Linked DNA regions of Homo sapiens. The protein of the gene in region 1 interacts with the protein of each later gene in a pairwise test. Each region holds a gene or a part of one and is shown in the gene's direction. Other genes may lie near its edges.

Region 1 (4,299 bases):
TAAAACCAGGCCACAAGACAAAGATTTGTATTCCAGTGGCTTATTTTGATTTAGGAGATGATTTAAGGAATCACCAGTGCGGGAGTATAACAGTGAACCCAAGACACCTTGAGATCAATAAAAAGGTGCATTGTTGGCAGGCTGCCTGCAAAGAAAGGGAGCATAATCCCAGTAGACAACACCAGGAGGCAGTTTTGTACATGCCTAAGAGTAATCCCACCTTAGCATGTAGAACACAAGGATATTTAGTCTCCAGTTCCCATCATGTGGGCTGAGTGGTGGTCCCAGGTGCTTTAATTTGTAGTCCATCTGCCCAAGCACAGGCCAAAAGAAAGCCTTCCCACAGAGTCCCGAGTTCATGTGGCAGCATGCCAGAGGTATGTACTGGAACAGTAGGTGCTAAAGGCAACAATTACATCATGAAAACTGCACATCTCACTCATATGTGGAATCTAAAAGTAATTTAGCTCATAGAAGTTAAGAGTAGAATAGTTAGAGTAGTAGAAAGTTAAGAGTTGTTACTGGAGAGAAAAGAGGGTATGGAAGCTAGAAAAAAAGCTAGAAGGAAGGATTTTGAATGTTCTCATGACAAAGAGATGATAAATGTTTGAGGTGACAGACATGCTAATTACCATGATTTGATCTTTACACAATGTCTGCATGTATCAGAACATCACACACTACCAAATAAATATATACAATTGTTATGTGTCAAAAAACATTATATACAATGTTTATATTTTATATTAATATTAATGTAAATAAAAATTTACACAAATCTTTTCATTAAATATGGTGTGGATAATTATATTATCTGATGATACCCATGCCACAGGCTAGGAGAAATAAAAATTTACATTAATGTTAATGTCAAAAAAGCAGAAACAAAGCCATATGATACATGTGACACTTATACCACATGCATAGAGTTATTTCAGACACATTGTGTGTTACCTTTGGGTAGAGAAGTGAATGAGAGTGAGGATGAGAGATGAAAAGAGGCAGAAGAAAAAGAGAGGCCTTATAGGAAGTGATGAAAGTGTGCCATAAACTGAGAGTATGACTAAAACCTTTCATCTTCCTCTTCTGCCGCTTCTAAGTTATTGGTTCTGCTGTTCCTTGACCTGTTTCAAGCTCTCACCTTCTATATCACACATGGGAAGTCTGGCATCAGACTTCCAGAGAGCAAGAACTAGGTGAAATACAAGGGCACAGCTCTCCTAGCCTGTGGCATGGGTATCATCAGATAATATAATTATCCACACCATTTTTAACAAAAAGATTTGCGTAAGAGATTCACAGAGGCAACCTGAGGCCCTGCAACTACATTTCCCAGAGATCCCTGAGGTGATCCTAACTAGACTCTGGTGTCAGGGTGATACGGAATTCCAGTGAGATCACTTCCCTTGCAGACTTTGGAAGGGAGAGCACTTTATTACAGACCTTGGAAGCAAGAGGATTGCATTCAGCCTAGTTCCTGGTTGCTGGCCAAAGTAAGTAGAACTTTGTAAGTAATTTGCAGTGTACTTTGAAAGTGGGGTATAAATTAAAAATAAAATCAAGTCCCCCTACTGACTGAATGGATCCCCTCTTGTCCTAGGCGACCCCAGAGAAACCTGGAAAACTAAATTCCAGGCCATAATGGAAAGGGAGGTCAGACACGCCTCATTATACACACTCCCTTTTGGAGTTCAGGCACAACTGACCAGCATTAACATTGAAACAGTGATCATAAGACTGTCAAAATGGACTGTTTGTGGGAATAAGATACCAAATTCCAATCTGACTCTGGTTTAGCATCACATGACAATAGCAGACCCTGAAGGAAATCAATATATTTAATCCCCAAAATATATTTCTTTGACACATATTGAAATGGTCTTGCAAAACCATCTTTTATGGGGAAATTTGCTGGTTTCTGGCTCTGCTCTGATTGAGGAGAGAATAAATGAGAGTCTGACACCTTAAAAATCTGAAAAGAGATATTTACCATCTGTTTTCTCTAAGGCTGCTAGCTGGAGGTTTCATCTACATGACATAAACCATGGTTCCCATAAGCCCTTTTAACTCAAGCATTTAATTGTACTGACCGCAAGTCTTTAGACAAAACTTAACTCTTCAACAAATTGCCAATCACAAAATCTTTGAATCCACCTTTGTCCTGTAAGCTCTCCTACTTCAATATGTCTGATTTTCAGGCAGAGCCAATGTATACCTTATGTGGGGGCCATAGGCTGTTGGCCCCCTAAAGCTTCACTAAAAGTCACTGTCATGTGACAGGTTGATTAATAGGGGAAAGGGAGTACAAATTTATTTAATGTATATACATGGTCTATTAGCCAGGACCCTTTAGAGGGCCAGAACTAATAGGATAGATGTATACATAAAGGGGAGTTTATTAAGGAGTAGTGAGTCACATGATCACAAGGTGACGTCCCACAGTAGGCCGTCTGCAAGCTGAGGAGCAAGGAAGCCAGTCCGAGTCCCAAAACCTCAAAAGTAGGGAAGCCGACAGTGCAGCCTTCAGTCTGTGGTCAAAGGTCCAGGAGTCCAAAGGCTGAAGAACTTGGAGTTTGATGTTTGAGGGCAGGAAGCATCCAGCACAGGAGAAAGATGTAGGCTGGGAGACTAAGCCAGTCTAGTCTTTCCACATTCTTCTGCCTACTTTCATTCTGGCTGTGCTGGCAGCTGATTAGATGGTGCCCACCCGGATTGAGGGTGGGCCTCCCTTTCTCAGTCCACTGATTCAAATGTTAATTTCCTTTGGCAACACCCTCACAGACACACCCAGGAACAATACTTTGAATCCTTCAATCCAATCAAGTTGACACTCAATATTAACCACCACACTTGGGAAACTTGAGAATGAAGACCCAACTTCCCAGTAAGTTACAGAAACTCATGTATTATTCCGAGGCCACAGTAAAGAGTGGAGACTCAAAGCATGGCCAGAAACAGGTAAATTAGTTTTAGTGGCAACACAGGTTAAGAGAGAGAGGAAGGAAGAAGCTCGGCTAGCAAAGGTGGCCTTGTTATGTAGACGAACCTTTTCTCAGAAGCAAAAGATGGTAAATGTTTCTATCCAGATCTTTAAAGGTGTCAGACTCTCAATCGCTCTGGATCCTGGGAAAGGCTTAGAAACAGGAGAGGGTATGGCTGCATTAATGGACATTGTCCACAGACGCAAATTTTCCTCAGTTAAGACAGTTTTGCAATGCCACTTCTGCTTGTTGGCCAGTGGAAACCATTTTTAAATATGTCAAAGAAATATATTTGAGGGTAAAATATTTTGATTTTCTTCAGTCCCCACTTTGAAATTTAAAACAAGTTTCACATACTAAAAGCCAAGGTAATAGCTTTGGGGAGATTTAAGTTAGAGGTGTTTAGATAGAGACAGTCATAGCAGTGGAAAAACACATTTGGGATAAATATAAATGAGCAAATTTAAATATATCATTCCATATTTTCTTTAGGCAGTCCCTTGGTTTTGAGGTGAGATCAGTTCAGTTAAATATCTACGTCCCATTCCAGGAGGTGGGACTGCAAATGGTTTAGGCCTTTAGACGTAATGTAGGCAATCAGATTTCTAGTAGGAGGCATTTCTGTAGAAACAGAAAAAAATAAATAAATAAATGTTACTATCTGGAGTAGTCTATATATCTAGAAAAGCTAGTCTATAGCTTTTTCTCTGAGGCGTCTTCATATTGCAGTGGCAATGTCCCAGATTTCCCTGGAAGTTCAAACCAGGTGTTCCACTGAACTTTCTGAGAAGGCCTCACATCAGCAGATATGCATGAAGGTTGTTTATAAGTTACTGTTATTTTCTCCTGATACCTTCAGTTTGCAAGACTTTAAGAAAACCCCAGTTTTAATTTCTAGTGAATTCAAGTAAGAAAAATGGGAGAAAACGTTGAAAATGTTACTTTGCAGACTTGTAGCCAGAAAAAAATTCAGGATTTGGTCTAACTTGTAAAAAATAATAAAAACTGAAAAAACAATGGGCAAGGCTAGAAGATACTAACAGATACACTATAGTTTTTGAAACATAGTATTTCTGCTTCCAGTTCTTCAATTTTATGAAAGACATAGTTTCATGCACATCCGTGTGAAGAGACCACCAAACAGACTCTGTGTGAGCAACATGGCTGTTTATTTCACCTGGGTGCAGGCGGGCTGAGTCCTAAAAGAGAGTCAGTGAAGGGAGATAAGGGTGGGGCCATTTTATAGGATTTGGATAGATAAAAGAAAAGTACAGTCAAAGGGGGGTTGTTCTCTGGCAGGCAGAGTGGGGGTCACAAG
Region 2 (3,604 bases), on another chromosome or scaffold:
TATTAAATGCCTCTTATCTTTTTTCATTTCTGCCATGAAGGTAGAGTGAAATTTTTCTTCTGTAAAGTGTTTAGACCAAGAGGTCCCAGAAAAACTCTTGGTCTCTTGGGTCTCAAATTTCATAATTAACCATTTCAGTTCAGGCATAAATTTATTCCTGATGGAGCTTGGTAATTTAGGAGATTTCTGGCAATTGATTCATGTGCTAATTTTCTAGGAATGAGATAAATACAGAGGGGACAGAACAGCTTTTTGTTGGTTTACATAGCGGTGTAAGACTTCTTTGGAGTCTTAATGTAAATGATAAGCCATTTCCCTCATAGAGTCTTATAGAACTGGGCTCTTTTTTTTTTTTTTTAATTTGACTTGTACCAGGATTATAAAACATATAGAAAATGATTCCTTCCGCTGTGCATAGAGTTTATCATCGTCTTTCTTCTGCTTGTCACATCCTTGCTTTTTAGACCATTTATCACCCATCACTCTGACTTTTCAGACCCTCATAATCCACATGATACTTATCCTTTTGATTAAAACAACTTAATGGCCTTTTCACGAATAATTAATCTGCTGTCTTTACTTTCAGCTCCAGGCTTTTAACTTTAATGTTGAGTTATCCAGCCTGTGTTGCCTTTCAAAGTTTCACTCCCCTTAGCCTTTTCCCCTCAAAGGTTTAATACTTCTTTAGAAACTTCAATAGTTGCTATACAAAGGTTTTAAAAAATGCTTCTGAGTTACTCTCACATCCCTTCTGCTGTGTATGAAGTGTATAACTGTGCAGAGATCAGTGGGATGAAATGAAAATAATTCAGATTTGCATATTCTGTCATTCTGGAAAATGTGGAGGCTTGCACTTTCAAGAAAAGTTAAAACTCCATTGCTTTTGAAGAAACAGTTGTGTATTATTTTGTGGTTATGTGTTTCTAACTCTAGATGTTTTTCTAACAGTGACAATTTATACCAAATGACATCCCAGCTTGAATGCATGACCTGGAATCAGATGAACTTAGGAGCCACCTTAAAGGGGTAAGGTTTTCTCTATTCCATTGCCTTTCCACAGTAACTTATACCTGTTTGAACCATTTCAAAGGTGCTTAGAACTTATGAAGAAAGTACAGTTTTAGAAGAAAGGGCAAAGCTCTCTGTGACATTAGAACGCTTTCCTCCTTCCCCTAGTTGGTGAGTTGTGTTCAGTATTAAATTTTCAAAAACATAAATGTGGGTTGTTTCTATCTGGAACAAGGAATATTGAGGACACTTATTATGGTCTTGTTGAATGTTTTATAATTCTTCAAAGGCTATTCAACCTCATTTAATAATTGTGTTTTACTATGATATCACAGTTGTTAACCATTCCACTATCTTATCAAGAAGTGCTTTGGGTGTGCAAAGTCCGGGATCCAAATTTGTATTTGTGTGATGCTGATCTGGGCAATTCACAGTCAGATACGCCCATACCTGATTGCACCAACAGGGTTTTTCTTTCCATACTTGATAATACAACCATAATAGGGAGAATACAGCCAGGAAACATCAGAAGGAGCTACTCTTTGCACCTAAAAATGAAAAAATAAAAAAAAGAAGGCAGGTGGGACTTGCTTTCACCATTGAAAGAGCTCACTTTTCATTTTCTACCAAGTGTGAAGAGATGGGCAGTAGCATAGAACACTCATGAAGTGCCTGCAGCGTGTCAGGTGTCCTTCCAGGTTACCTCATCTTATCTTCCCAACACTCTCATGAGAGCTAAGTACTGCTTGGTTTACAGATAAGTAAACCAAGCTCAGAGGGTTAAGTTACTTCCCAGGTTCACATCCTACTAAGTGCTAGAGCTGGGATGCCAAGTCCAGATCTGATTCCAAAGCCCAAGCTCTTTGCAGCCTCCGGTGGTGCCTTCCACCCCACCATTGGCCCCAGTGGGACTGGGGACTTAGTTCAGCACTCTTGATAGCTAGCTTGATGTCTCTGTGTATTGAGGGGCTTTTCACTGGATTCTGGGATCTGGGGGGCTTGCCAGATCCATGCATGCTCCATTCCCCACTCCCCACCTCTTCTTCTTTTCTAGAGTTGCTGCTGGGAGCTCCAGCTCAGTGAAATGGACAGAAGGGCAGAGCAAGTGAGTGGACAATGCGGAGATGGCAAAGCAAATGGCGTAGGCCTTGCTGACTGGCACCTGGGGCAATGCAGGAGTTAGGACTGACGTGGGTAATCAGGGTAGCATTTGGTGGATGGGAAGAATCTCTCTCCCCCGCCCCCACCTCTTCTTATTCATCATACACATGCTGGGGACAAAATGGAGGGAGTAGCATTTCTCATCAACATGCCCCTGGAAAACAATGTAAAAAATTATGCAGCATCCTGTTCATTTCTTTGTGAATACTTCACAAAATACTAAATACTAAATTTGTGGCATTACAACCATAATGCCACATGTTCCTGTTAGATCAGTCAAAGCTTTCAGTCTTAACTTGCTTCTTCTTTATTTACCTTTAAATCTCTCAGGGAGAACTTACCCTAAGTCTGAGGCCAGGCTTTGAAAAGACTTGTTTTTTGTTGTTTTTCAAAGTTTGTTTTTATTCCCAAACATTCGCACCTTCCCCAGCCCTGTACCCTGCACCTTGGGGAATTTCTGTAGCTGTTTCTTTTTCTTCTCTCTGCTTTAACTCCACAACCAGCCGCCCTCTTTTCTTCTTTATTGTGTGGGCCCAGTCCTGTTATTTGGTTCATCCTTCAGTAATCAACAGAGTTGTATTTCATCTTCCAAGACTTACTGTTAGGTTCTTCACCTCACCCCCGCCCCCAAATTTTTCAGCAGTTTTATCCAGATCTCCTCTTCCTCTCTCTGGACCACAAAGAAAAGGCTTTCTGTTGTTTTAAATTATTTCTCTCCTGTCTTCCATCTGGGGGACTGCTGACAGTTTTAGCATTCTGTCTTTCTACCCATTCTCTTTTCTTTTTGAGACGGAGTTTAGCTCTTGTCGCCCAGGCTGGAGTGCAATGGTGCCATCTCGCTCACCGCAACCTCCACCTCCCGGGTTCAAGCGATTCTCCTGCCTCAGCCTCCCCAGTAGCTGGGATTACAGGCATGTGCCACCACGCCCGGCTAATTTTGTATTTTTAGTAGAGATGGGGTTTCTCCATGTTGGTCAGTCTGGTGTCAAACTCCCGACCTCAGGTGATCCGCCCACCTTGATCTCCCGAAGTGCTGGGATTACAGGCGTGAGCCACCGTGCCTGGCCTTTCTACCTGTTCTTAACTCGTCTTAAGTTCCTTGGCTTCTTGGTCCCACCCTTTCTTTCTGGCTCCCTTCCTTTTCTCCTTTCTCCTCTCCTCAGAACTTGATAACCTTCCCCAAGCTAAATAGCAAGGATAGACAGAACATGATTGTGAAGTGAGCAGTACATTTCAGTTTCAAAAACTTCTTCATGCTGTAATACAGGGGCTTGTTTGTTCAGTTACAAAAATTACAGATAAGGAATTTGGCATGTATTTGCAGCTGGATATTTCCATGGTTAAGATAATTTCGATACTTTTTAAGGTCTTTAGACATGTACTGTTAGTCACTTGCTGAGGAGGCAGAAGCTGTATTATAAGGATGAAGCACAAA
Region 3 (3,604 bases), on another chromosome or scaffold:
ACAACTAACAAAAGACAGATTTCTGCCCAAGAAATTGTTTTTGGTTTGTTTTATTTACCTTAATTGACATAAAGGTGAGTACTCCTGACTATATTTAATTTACATCATTATTAAAGTTGTCTCATGTTTAGTAACATAGAGATAAATTTAATTATAATGTGGTTAATGTTGAACAGTCAGAGACTTAATCACATTTAGACAAGGCATTTGAGACTAGATTTGTCTGTAAACATGTCAGCTTCCATTTGAATTCTCACATAAATTAGTCTTTGTTTTGGGATGGAGATAGTGGAAAAGCCTTTGTTTAAGTAAGATAGATTACTATGACACACATTTCTTTCTCTGTCCTTTGTTTAGGGCAAAACTAAATTTAGCTATGTTTTACAAGCTAAGATCTTTAAGAACGGAATGGGGAAGAGAGCAAAGAGTTTCAGAAAATTAAAACTTAGTTTTAGTTGCATTTTAGGCACAGTTTGTAATTAATTGTTTAATATTGGATTACAGGGTAGATGGGAGGAGAAAGTTGATCTCTGAAGCAGTGAACTTTTTTAAAGTATGTATTTTTAGGGGTAACCTCAATATCACATAACTGTTTTACGAACATGCAGGCCTTAGCAATACAAATTAACCTGGGGTACATCTAAGAAGTCTAAACAGTTGCCTGTGCTAACAGATACAATGTATTCCCACAGAATGCCAATAAAAAGAGAATTCCCTTCAGAAATGTTCAAGAAGAAAGTAGGGGAAGGGAAGCCAGCACACCTGTGGTGTCAGAATAATATTCTGTGCATTTAGGCTGGGTGTGGTGGCTCACGCCTGTAATCCCAGCACTTTGGGAGGCCGAGGCGGGTGGATCACAAGGTCAGGAGTTCGAGGCCAATATGGTGAAACCCTGTTTCTACTAAAAATACAAAAATTAGCTGGGTGTGGTGACATGTGCCTGTAATCCCAGCACTTTGGGAGGCCGAGGCAGGCTGATCACCCGAGGTCAGGAGTTTGAGACCAGCCTGGCCAACATGGTGAAATCCTGTCTTTACTAAGAATACAAAAGTTAGCTGGGTGTGGTGGTGGGTGCCTGTGATCCCAGCTACTTGGGAGGCTGAGGCAGGAGAATCGCTTGAACCCAGGAGGCGGAGGTTGCATTGAGCCAAGACTGTGCCATTGCACTCCAGCCTGGGCAACAAGAATGAAACTCTGTCTCAAAAAGAAACAAAAACAAAAAAACAGAGAAGTGATGTATTTGGGGCAGTACCAGATTAGTAACTAGAAATTCTTTGTCCTTTTCTTCAGTGTCCATTGGTCCTAAAGTCTATATATATATGTGTTTTTCAGTAAAGCATATTCATATCTATGATTAGATCGAGATCATTTTAGAAACGAGTTTCTGGGCCGGGTGTGGTGGGTCACTTAAGGTCAGGAATTTGAGACCAGCCTGGCCAACATGGTGAAACCCCATCTCTACTGAAAATACAAAAATTAGCTGGGCATGGTGGTGAGCACCTCTAACCCCAGCTACTCGGGAGGGTGAGGTGGGAGAATCGCTTGAACCCGGGAGGCAGAGGTTGCAGTGAACAGAGATCGCGCCACTGCACTCCAGCCTGGGTGACAGAGCAAGACTCGGCCTCAAAAAAAGAAAAAAGGAAGCTTCTGGATGCCTTCAATTTCCCTTTCATTTTATTTTTTGAACCTCCCTGCCTCCCTTATTTCCCTTTGTTTTTAACTCTAGACAAATTAAAGGAAACATTCCTATGATAAGTATACTTTTATATAGCACTTCTAAGAAAGTTGTATATTCAGGCTGGGCGCAGTGGCTCACGCCTGTTATCACAGCACTTTGAGAGGCCGAGGCGGACAGATCACCTGAGGTCAGGAGATCGAGACCAGCCTGACCAACATGGAGAAACCCTGTCTCTACTAAAAATACAAAAAAAAAATTAGCTGGGCATGGTGGCGCATGCCTGTAGTCCTAGCTACTCAGGAGGCTGAGGCAGGAGAATCCCTTGAACCTGGGAGGCAGAGGTTGTGGTGAACCAAGATTGTGCCATTGCACTCCAGCCTGGGCAACAAGAGCGAAACTCCATCTCAAAAAAAAAAAAAAAAAAAAAGGAAAGGTGTTTATTTATAGGAGATTTTATTTCGGAGAAAGATCAGATAAATACGTCTTCATTTGCTGCTCTGCTTGGGCTTTTCAGAATCTATTAATATTTTGATACATTTGATTGAGAGTCCACTTGAGGAAAATTTTACATGTTTGGGGGAGAGAGTATTTATGCTTTAACTCTGGACCTTGATAAAGTATTAAGACAATGATTTTATGAAATGTTATTACTTTGGAAGAGCTGGGTTTGATAGTAAGAATGTTCTTATCTGGAGGTGAGCGGCTATTCTGAGTATATGTAGATTTAGAGCACTACACTCAAAGTAGTGGTGCATATCTAGATTGACATGAAGCGTTGTGAAAACAGCATTTTTAAAAACAATAAAGTGCCTTGGATAATTCTCATTTGTTTTCATCAATTGGGAATTTCCCTAACCATTCTCAGAATGGTCCCATGTGTACTACTTTTCTCAAATCACAGAGCAGTATCTAGTGTTTGCAGGATGGGTGCAAAGCAGCATTCTTCTGAGTTTCCATTATGACCATTATGACATAGTTGCTTTAATGTTGTACTTTGCTTTAATGATGTGCTTTAATGTTGTAATGCTTTCCACACTACATACTCAGAAATTAGAATTTAGGAGATAGGATAAACCAAAAAACTACAAATTTGTTGCTTATCCTACTGAGATGCTACCATCCCCTCCAGTGGTTACACTGGTTTTCATTACTAGAAAATTCAGATTTTTATTTTTAATTTTAATATTTATTTATTTATTGTGAGACGGAGTCTCACTCCGTCACCCAGGCTGGAGTGCAGTGGTGCGATCTCTGCTCTCTGCAGCCTCCACCTCCTGGGCTCAAGCAGTTCTCCTGTCTCAGCCTCCAGAGTAGCTGGGATTACAGGTGCACACCACCATGCCTGGCTAATTTTTGTATTTTTAGTAGAGACGCAGTTTCACCATGTTGGCCAGGCTGGTTTTGAACTCCTGACCTCAAATGATCTGCCCGCCTCGACCTCCCAAAGTGCTGGGATTACAGGGGTTAGCCAGTGTGCCCGGCCAAAAATTGAGATCTTTAAAAGCTTTTTTTTCTTTTTTGAAATAGGGAACGCTTCATGAATTTGTGTCATCTTTGCACAGGGGCCATGCTAATCTTCTTTGTATCATTCCAATTTTAGTATATGTGCTGCTGTAGTAAGCACTTAATGGCATCTTAAAGCAATTTTTTGATGGTTCTTATGGAAAAATATGACTTTTATGAAAAATAGAGCGATTTCATCAGCATTATGTTATTACCAAAAGTAAATTAAAATGCACACAGAGAATGCGATACTTTTGATCTTCTCCATGTTTGAGTACAGAATAGTGGAAGAGTGAATGTGTGCCTATGGTTAATTTTGAGGGTTTGTTTTGAAATCTTGTTCCTTAATGTATCTTATTTTTGTTTACCTGCCAATGGATAGAAAATGCTTGTGACCACGTGAATTTTCACCCACTTGAATAG
Region 4 (3,355 bases), on another chromosome or scaffold:
GGCCTGGGTTCAAAGTCCATTTTGAGTGTGTCACCTGGGATAGGGCATTCCCCCTTCACCCTTAAACTCTTCACCTATGAGGAAATGAGACTGGATGACATCCAACAGACCTTTTAGAATAAAGAGGTAGATTTTATTTATTTTATACTTCCAAATTCTTTTTGATCATCAGTGAAAATCAGTTAACGTTTCTCCACCCTCTTTCATGTGTGTTTAAAAGTATCTTTTTCACTGAATGTACCTTGTGTTCTATATGCTTCTACTCTCATTATCTGCTGATCTGATCATTTAAAAGCTAATCATGCAAGGCCAGTTTTCAGCATAATTTGGACTATTAGCCCAATATATTAGCAGTTTTGGCATTTGATTCTGAAAGTGGTTGCTGGTTCAGATAATGGCTTCTCACCAGTGTTTTTTTGTTTTTTGTTTTCTTTAAAAAAAAAAACCCTCTGGATGAGATTTCTATGAGAAACTACTTGAACATGAAATCAGCCCACCTGGAGTCTTGTAATCATTCAGTTACTTTTACTTCCCAGGCAAAATGGCAATACCTGTGCTTTGGAAGTTTCTGGAGAAGTATCCTTCAGCTGAGGTAGCAAGAACCGCAGACTGGAGAGATGTGTCAGAACTTCTTAAACCTCTTGGTCTCTACGATCTTCGGGCAAAAACCATTGTCAAGTTCTCAGGTATTTTCCTATACACCCAAAGGAAAAACATAATACATTGTGCTTATTTAAGAGAGCCACACCTTAAACTTTAATGTTCTCAGATACTATATTAATGGAGGTTTTTCAGCTCAAGCACCCAAGGCATTTAAAAAAGTCCACTTTCCCCAAACCACAGTCTCCCACTGACCTAAACAATAAATCTTTGCCCAGCACTGGGTCAGGCATGTGGGCAGAATTAGGGGAAGAAGTCAGTGAAGCAGAAAGCCCAGTTCTTGACCTCAAGGACATGACTTCTGTCTTGTTAGCACAGCACAAAAGAGTGGTTAGGAATTGGCAAATGATATGGGTGCTGCAGGAATTCAGAAGGAAGAGTAATCACAACTGGGGTTGCTGGGAAAGAGCCTTTCCTGTCCCTTTCTGCTGTTCTCTCCATCCTGCCCCATCACCACACATTTTGGGAGGGTGTCTTTAGAAGCTGACCTGATAATGTGGGATGTTGTATTCTTCAGATGAATACCTGACAAAGCAGTGGAAGTATCCAATTGAGCTTCATGGGATTGGTAAATATGGCAACGACTCTTACCGAATTTTTTGTGTCAATGAGTGGAAGCAGGTGAGGCTCACTCCCATCCATAATTCAGCACATTTGGTCTCTGAGGCAAAATAAGTCCACCATTATGGTTAAGACTATTTATTGGATACAAATGCTATTACAGTCACAAACAATTGTGTTCCTGGCTGCGGGGAAGCGGGTGGCATGTGGGTTTTGGGGTTTTTGATCAGTAGGCGCTCCCAAGTCCACAAAGACCAGTCCAGCGGCGTGGCCTCTGACTCATCTCCAGTGGTTTGTCACCTCTGGCCCTGTTCCTGTCATTCCCTATTTGTGTGCTATCTCTAAGCCTGACGTGGTTTTCCTCCTGTCAAAAGTACACCACTACAGGAAAGCAGGAAGGTTTGGGCCTGCAATGTATGCATATTGGGTTTCTCTTAGTGGTCTCAGACTACGTTTGTGGTGACTGGGTCCTGCTTCAGCCCTGTTGAATATGCCCAGCCTGTGGCATGCTGGTGGTCATCCTGGCAGCTGGTGGGTGGCCTGGTATGCTGCCCACTCAGCTTGAGACTCACCCTCATGCATTCAGCCAGTAGGTCTGGCCAAGCCTGAACTGAAGGACCATGGTCCTATCCCAGCTTCATCAGAGCAATCCATTGTGACCTGAGAATCCATTTAACCTCTCGGTCTAGAACCTCCTTCTGGAAAGTGAGGTATTAATACTTGACTCATGTTATCGCCACCCCACATTCTAAGTCATGGTTGAGTAGTAATTTGGACAGTACCTTGTAAATTGTGTGAGATTACCTTAATATAAGGTATAACTTAAAATATTCATGAATCCCAGGAGGTTAAAGGTTATAACTTTTAGGTATGGTATCGTAATGTACTGTCCCCCAGCAAACATTTAAAAAGCCAATTTTAAAAAATGTATTTCTGACTAAGTTACATTAAGGTCTCTGCCTCTGTATCTTATGTTTCTTCCAGGTGCACCCTGAAGACCACAAATTAAATAAATATCATGACTGGCTTTGGGAAAATCATGAAAAATTAAGTCTATCTTAAACTCTGCAGCTTTCAAGCTCATCTGTTATGCATAGCTTTGCACTTCAAAAAAGCTTAATTAAGTACAACCAACCACCTTTCCAGCCATAGAGATTTTAATTAGCCCAACTAGAAGCCTAGTGTGTGTGCTTTCTTAATGTGTGTGCCAATGGTGGATCTTTGCTACTGAATGTGTTTGAACATGTTTTGAGATTTTTTTAAAATAAATTATTATTTGACAACAATCCAAAAAAAATACGGCTTTTCCAATGATGAAATATAATCAGAAGATGAAAAATAGTTCTAAACTATCAATAATACAAAGCAAATTTCTATCAGCCTTGCTAAAGCTAGGGGCCCACTAAATATTTTTATCGGCTAGGCGTGGTGGTGCATGCCTGTAATCTCGGAAGGCTGAGGCAGGAGGATCATTTGAGCTCATGAGGGCCCAGGAGGTCAAGGCTTCAGTGAGCCATGATCATGCCACTGCACTCCAGTCTGGATGACAGAGAGAGACCCTGTCTCAAAAAATATATATTTAAAAAATAAAAATAAAAGCTGACCCCAAAGACAAATAAGATTCCTCTGGCATTGTGTATTGTTGACAGCTCCACACTAGCTCTTAGGAATTGTAGATTCCACCCCAGTATCCATTTGATAACCTAATGTGAATATGGGCCTGCTGCTCCATTTCAGCTCACTCACTCTTTTACCTTGGTCCCTTTGTGAAAACTCATTTCTCATCTTCCATTTGGAGTTTATACCATTTGGCCAGGCACAGTGGCTTACACCTGTAATCCTAGCACTTTGGGAGGCTGAGGCAGGAGGATTGCTTGAGCCCAGGAGTTCAAAACCAGACTGGGCAACATAATGAGACCCCGTCTCTACAAAAAATTTTAAAAATTAATTGGGCATGGTGACATACACTTGTGGTCCCAGCTACTCAGAAGGCTGAGGTGGGAGAATCCCTTGAGCCCAGGAGATTGAGGCTGCAGTGAGCTATGATCACACCACTGCACTTCAGCCTGGATGACACAGCAAGACCCTGTCTTAAAAAAAATAAGTCTTAATGCCATTTTTATTACAAGTATTG
Region 5 (3,604 bases), on another chromosome or scaffold:
AAATTTCATGGAGTGTGAAATTAATAAACATGACACTGATGTCACCCCCACCTCCTGCCCCACTTAGAAACATCTGAAACAGATTTCATTCAAGATGTTGATGCCTTTCTTCCATTTTTAGATGGAAAAGATATTCTTTTTCTAGCCATTGTGTCAGAAAGTCTGTTGGATATAAAAAGATATAGTGTGAAAATTATATGTCTTATTTAGAATAAAGCCAATGAGAAAATTAGAATCAGAGCTTATGCTGTTTCAGTTTTTATTTCTTTGCATCTGTATATTTTCCTCTTCGGGTATCAAAGTTTAAGTCGATTTCTCTTTGTAAGATTCTTTCTGAGATAGCATAATTAAATATTCAAGATGTGTTGCTATTTAACATTAGAGGGAGGCAGTCAGTAGCTTTATTCATAAAGTTCCACCTGTTCTTTTCACTGGGCTGATTAGGAAAATCCTGATTTATTGGGTTGAAAATTTCTAAACCTAAAATGTCTTGAGATTTTTAGAATATTTTATTTATCAGATGAGTGGCCTACACAATGTTTAACAGTGTAATGTTTAAAATAGAAACTAACTGATTGGATCCCTTCATCTTTTCTGATAACTGAAAAACAAATTTGGCTGTCATATCTGTGACATCTAAATTTGCTTATAAGTTTTTTTGGCTTTTAAACAGAAGGAATCTCAAAAGAATGATAAAGATTTGAAGATATTAGAGAAAGAGGTAAGCAGTGCTTTAAACTTAGTGAAAAGTACACATGATAGAAAGAGAGTTACACAGATTTAAGAGATAAGGATTCTGTTGCAGTGTGAGGAGTCCTGCAGTGAGGCAAACATGCCATCCAGAACAGTGCCTACAGGAAAACAGTTCTTACAGTATTTCACAGATCTATCCGGGCTATGTTAATGTGGTATGCTGGCAACGCCGAGATTAAAGATAGCCCACTTAATGAAAAACTGATAACTGAAAAATCATTATGTCAGTTGATTACAATTATATATGTGGATCAAATATTTATATCTATCCATCGTTCACAGTCTTCCTGTATGCTAACTTATGTTAACACAACATAGCTAGAGGATTTCTTAGTGAGCATGCAATCCTAGCTGGTTAGACTGTGATGAAGTTAGGCTAACTCGATGCATTGCTCTGCACAATAGGTATAGGCCTTCCTCATGGGTGAAATAACATAGAGCTGTGCTGTTTGATATGGTAGCTACTCACCACATGTGATGATCTAAATTAAATAAGAACTCAATTCCTCAGTTGCAATAATCACATTTCAAGTGCTCAGTAGCCACATGTGATTGGCAGCTACCATACTGGACAGGGCATTTCCACCATGACAGAAATTTCTATTGAACAGTACTAACCTAAAGAACCCATTTACTTTCCTAGCAATGCTAAGCAGCTCACTGTGAACTTTGCTTCTCTGCAGTCTTTTTTTTCTGTTTCCATTGCTGACCAACTCTTTTCCTCATGGATATATTCTTTCAATATATTAAAATCTTTCATTTGATTACAGTCGAATGTTGGCTTTCAACCAAGAGTATGTCAGAGTAACTGTAAATGTCTGCTCAGTTGCTCTGATTCTTTTTTATGTATTCTAATAATGTTAGCTATCATTTTACTGAGGGTACATGTAGGGGTTGATACTTACAGGAATAATCACTGAGTCTCAGTGAGATAGCTGGTAAGTGAGTGGTAGAGCCAGGATTAGAACTAATAATTTACACCAGTGACTTCATTGGGTATAGAATTTTAGGGTGGCAGGTTCCCCCCCATTATATTAAAAATATCATTTCATTGTCTTTTGGCTTCCACATTTTCTGTTGACAAATATTGGTTTGGGTTTTTTTTTGTTTTTTGTTTTTTTAATCTGGTAATAGCAGCAAGAATGATGGCTTGCCAATGCCTAGTACATTCTCCTCAGAAGCCCAGCTCTGCCTTCTTGAAATAAAAAACATTTAGCATTTTAAGCTAATTTGAATTTGTGTAATTGAAGCTAGAGAAAATAACTATTATAGGTGGAAATACCTTAAAAGTGAATAAATAGCGGCCGGGTGTGGTGGCTTACACCTGTAATCCTAGCACTTTGGGAGGCTGAGGCGGGTGGATCACGAGGTCAGGAGATCGAGACCATCCTGGCTAATATGGTGAAACCCCGTCTCTATTAAAAATACAAAAAATTAGCCGGGTGTGGTGGCCCGTGCTGGTAGTCCCAGCTATTCGGGAGGCTGAGGCAGGAGAATCGCTTGAACCCAGGAGGCGGAGCTTGCAGTGAGCCGAGATCGTGCCACTGCACTCCAGCCTGGGCAACAGAGCACAGAGCAAGACTCCATCTCAAAAAAAAAAAAAAAAAAGTGAATAGATAGCTTAATTGTACTTGGAACTTATGGCAACTAAAGTTCTTATGTTCTTAAAATGCATTAAGACTTTTAAGATGTATCATAGGTAAATATGATTATTCAAATAGCTAGTAACATTAGAATATCTACAAGCATAATGTCAAAATCAGAGATTTTTCCAGAAACTTTAGGGGTGATTATTGGTAGCATCTCCTTATGTTGGCATTCTATCAGTGAATCATTTATTATCACCTTGTTTTTGTCCAGATTCGTGTTCTTCTACAGGAACGTGGTGCCCAGGACAGGCGGATCCAGGATCTGGAAACTGAGTTGGAAAAGATGGAAGCAAGGCTAAATGCTGCACTAAGGGAAAAAACATCTCTCTCTGCAAATAATGCTACACTGGAAAAACAACTTATTGAATTGACCAGGACTAATGAACTACTAAAATCTAAGGTATCTGAGCCTCATGATAATATTTACAATTGAATAAATATAAACACGTTTTTTAGGGCCGGGCACGGTGGCTCACGCCTGTGTTCCCAGCATTTTGGGAGGCCAAGGCAGGCGGATCACCTGAGGTCGGGAGTTCGAGACCAGCCTGACCAACATGGAGAAACCCTGTCTCTACTAAAAATACAAAAATTAGCTAGGCCTATTGGCGGGCGCCTGTAATCTCAGCTACTCGGGAGGCTGAGGCAGAAGAATCACTTGAACCCAGGAGGTGGAGGTTGCAGTGAGCTGACATGGCGCCATTGCACTTCAGCCTAGGCAAGAGAGTGCGACTCCATCTCAAAAAACAAAACAAAACAAAACAACATACACCAGGCGATTCAGATTCATTTTGTTAAGCAAACATGTTTCAAGAAATCCTTTCTCAGGGACTTGCTTTAGAGTCTTGCAATGGACTTTCCAGCATATAGAGGTAAGTGACCACCCAAACAACCTTTCAAAAATGAACCAACAGGCCAGCCACAGTGGCTCACACCTGTAATTCCAGCGCTTTGGGAAGCTGAGACGGATGGATCACTTGAGGTCAGGATTTTGAGACTAGCCTAGCCTAACATGGCGAAACCCCATCTTTACTAAAAATACAAAAATTAGTCAGGTATGGTGGCGTACACCCGTAATTCCAGCTACTCAGGAGGCTGAGGCATGAGAATAGCTTGAACTCGGGAGGCTGAGGCATGAGAATAGCTTGAACTCGGGAGGTGGAAGTTGCAGTGAGCAACACGGCACTCCAGCCTGGGTGACAGAG

Evidence for each region.
Region 2: the proteins of NAT2 (region 1) and WT1 interact in a two-hybrid assay, tested with the Homo sapiens proteins (one large-scale study listed by BioGRID and IntAct).
Region 3: the proteins of NAT2 (region 1) and PPM1D interact in a two-hybrid assay, tested with the Homo sapiens proteins (one large-scale study listed by BioGRID and IntAct).
Region 4: the proteins of NAT2 (region 1) and MBD4 interact in binary tests that used the Homo sapiens proteins (3 or more experiments, as listed by UniProt).
Region 5: the proteins of NAT2 (region 1) and HMMR interact in a two-hybrid assay, tested with the Homo sapiens proteins (one large-scale study listed by BioGRID and IntAct).

The regions. Positions count from the first base shown.
Region 1 is NC_000008.11:18,389,853-18,394,151, forward strand, and holds the start of NAT2 (arylamine N-acetyltransferase 2), read left to right. Parts: upstream 1-1,429; 5' UTR 1,430-1,493; intron 1,494-4,299. UniProt on the Homo sapiens protein: Catalyzes the N- or O-acetylation of various arylamine and heterocyclic amine substrates. Participates in the detoxification of a plethora of hydrazine and arylamine drugs, and is able to bioactivate several known carcinogens.
Region 2 is NC_000011.10:32,414,999-32,418,602, reverse strand, and holds part of WT1 (Wilms tumor protein), read left to right. Parts: intron 1-948; coding exon 949-1,026; exon of another isoform or gene 1,027-1,179; intron 1,180-2,062; coding exon 2,063-2,113; intron 2,114-3,604. UniProt on the Homo sapiens protein: Transcription factor that plays an important role in cellular development and cell survival. Recognizes and binds to the DNA sequence 5'-GCG(T/G)GGGCG-3'. Regulates the expression of numerous target genes, including EPO.
Region 3 is NC_000017.11:60,659,136-60,662,739, forward strand, and holds part of PPM1D (protein phosphatase 1D), read left to right. Parts: intron 1-504; exon of another isoform or gene 505-793; intron 794-3,604. UniProt on the Homo sapiens protein: Involved in the negative regulation of p53 expression. Required for the relief of p53-dependent checkpoint mediated cell cycle arrest.
Region 4 is NC_000003.12:129,430,429-129,433,783, reverse strand, and holds the end of MBD4 (methyl-CpG-binding domain protein 4), read left to right. Parts: intron 1-536; coding exon 537-686; intron 687-1,177; coding exon 1,178-1,281; coding exon of another isoform or gene 1,282-1,335; exon of another isoform or gene 1,336-1,608; intron 1,609-2,205; coding exon 2,206-2,283; 3' UTR 2,284-2,837; downstream 2,838-3,355. UniProt on the Homo sapiens protein: Mismatch-specific DNA N-glycosylase involved in DNA repair. Has thymine glycosylase activity and is specific for G:T mismatches within methylated and unmethylated CpG sites. Can also remove uracil or 5-fluorouracil in G:U mismatches. Has no lyase activity.
Region 5 is NC_000005.10:163,467,028-163,470,631, forward strand, and holds part of HMMR (hyaluronan mediated motility receptor), read left to right. Parts: intron 1-673; coding exon 674-721; intron 722-2,613; coding exon 2,614-2,802; intron 2,803-3,604. UniProt on the Homo sapiens protein: Receptor for hyaluronic acid (HA). Involved in cell motility. When hyaluronan binds to HMMR, the phosphorylation of a number of proteins, including PTK2/FAK1 occurs.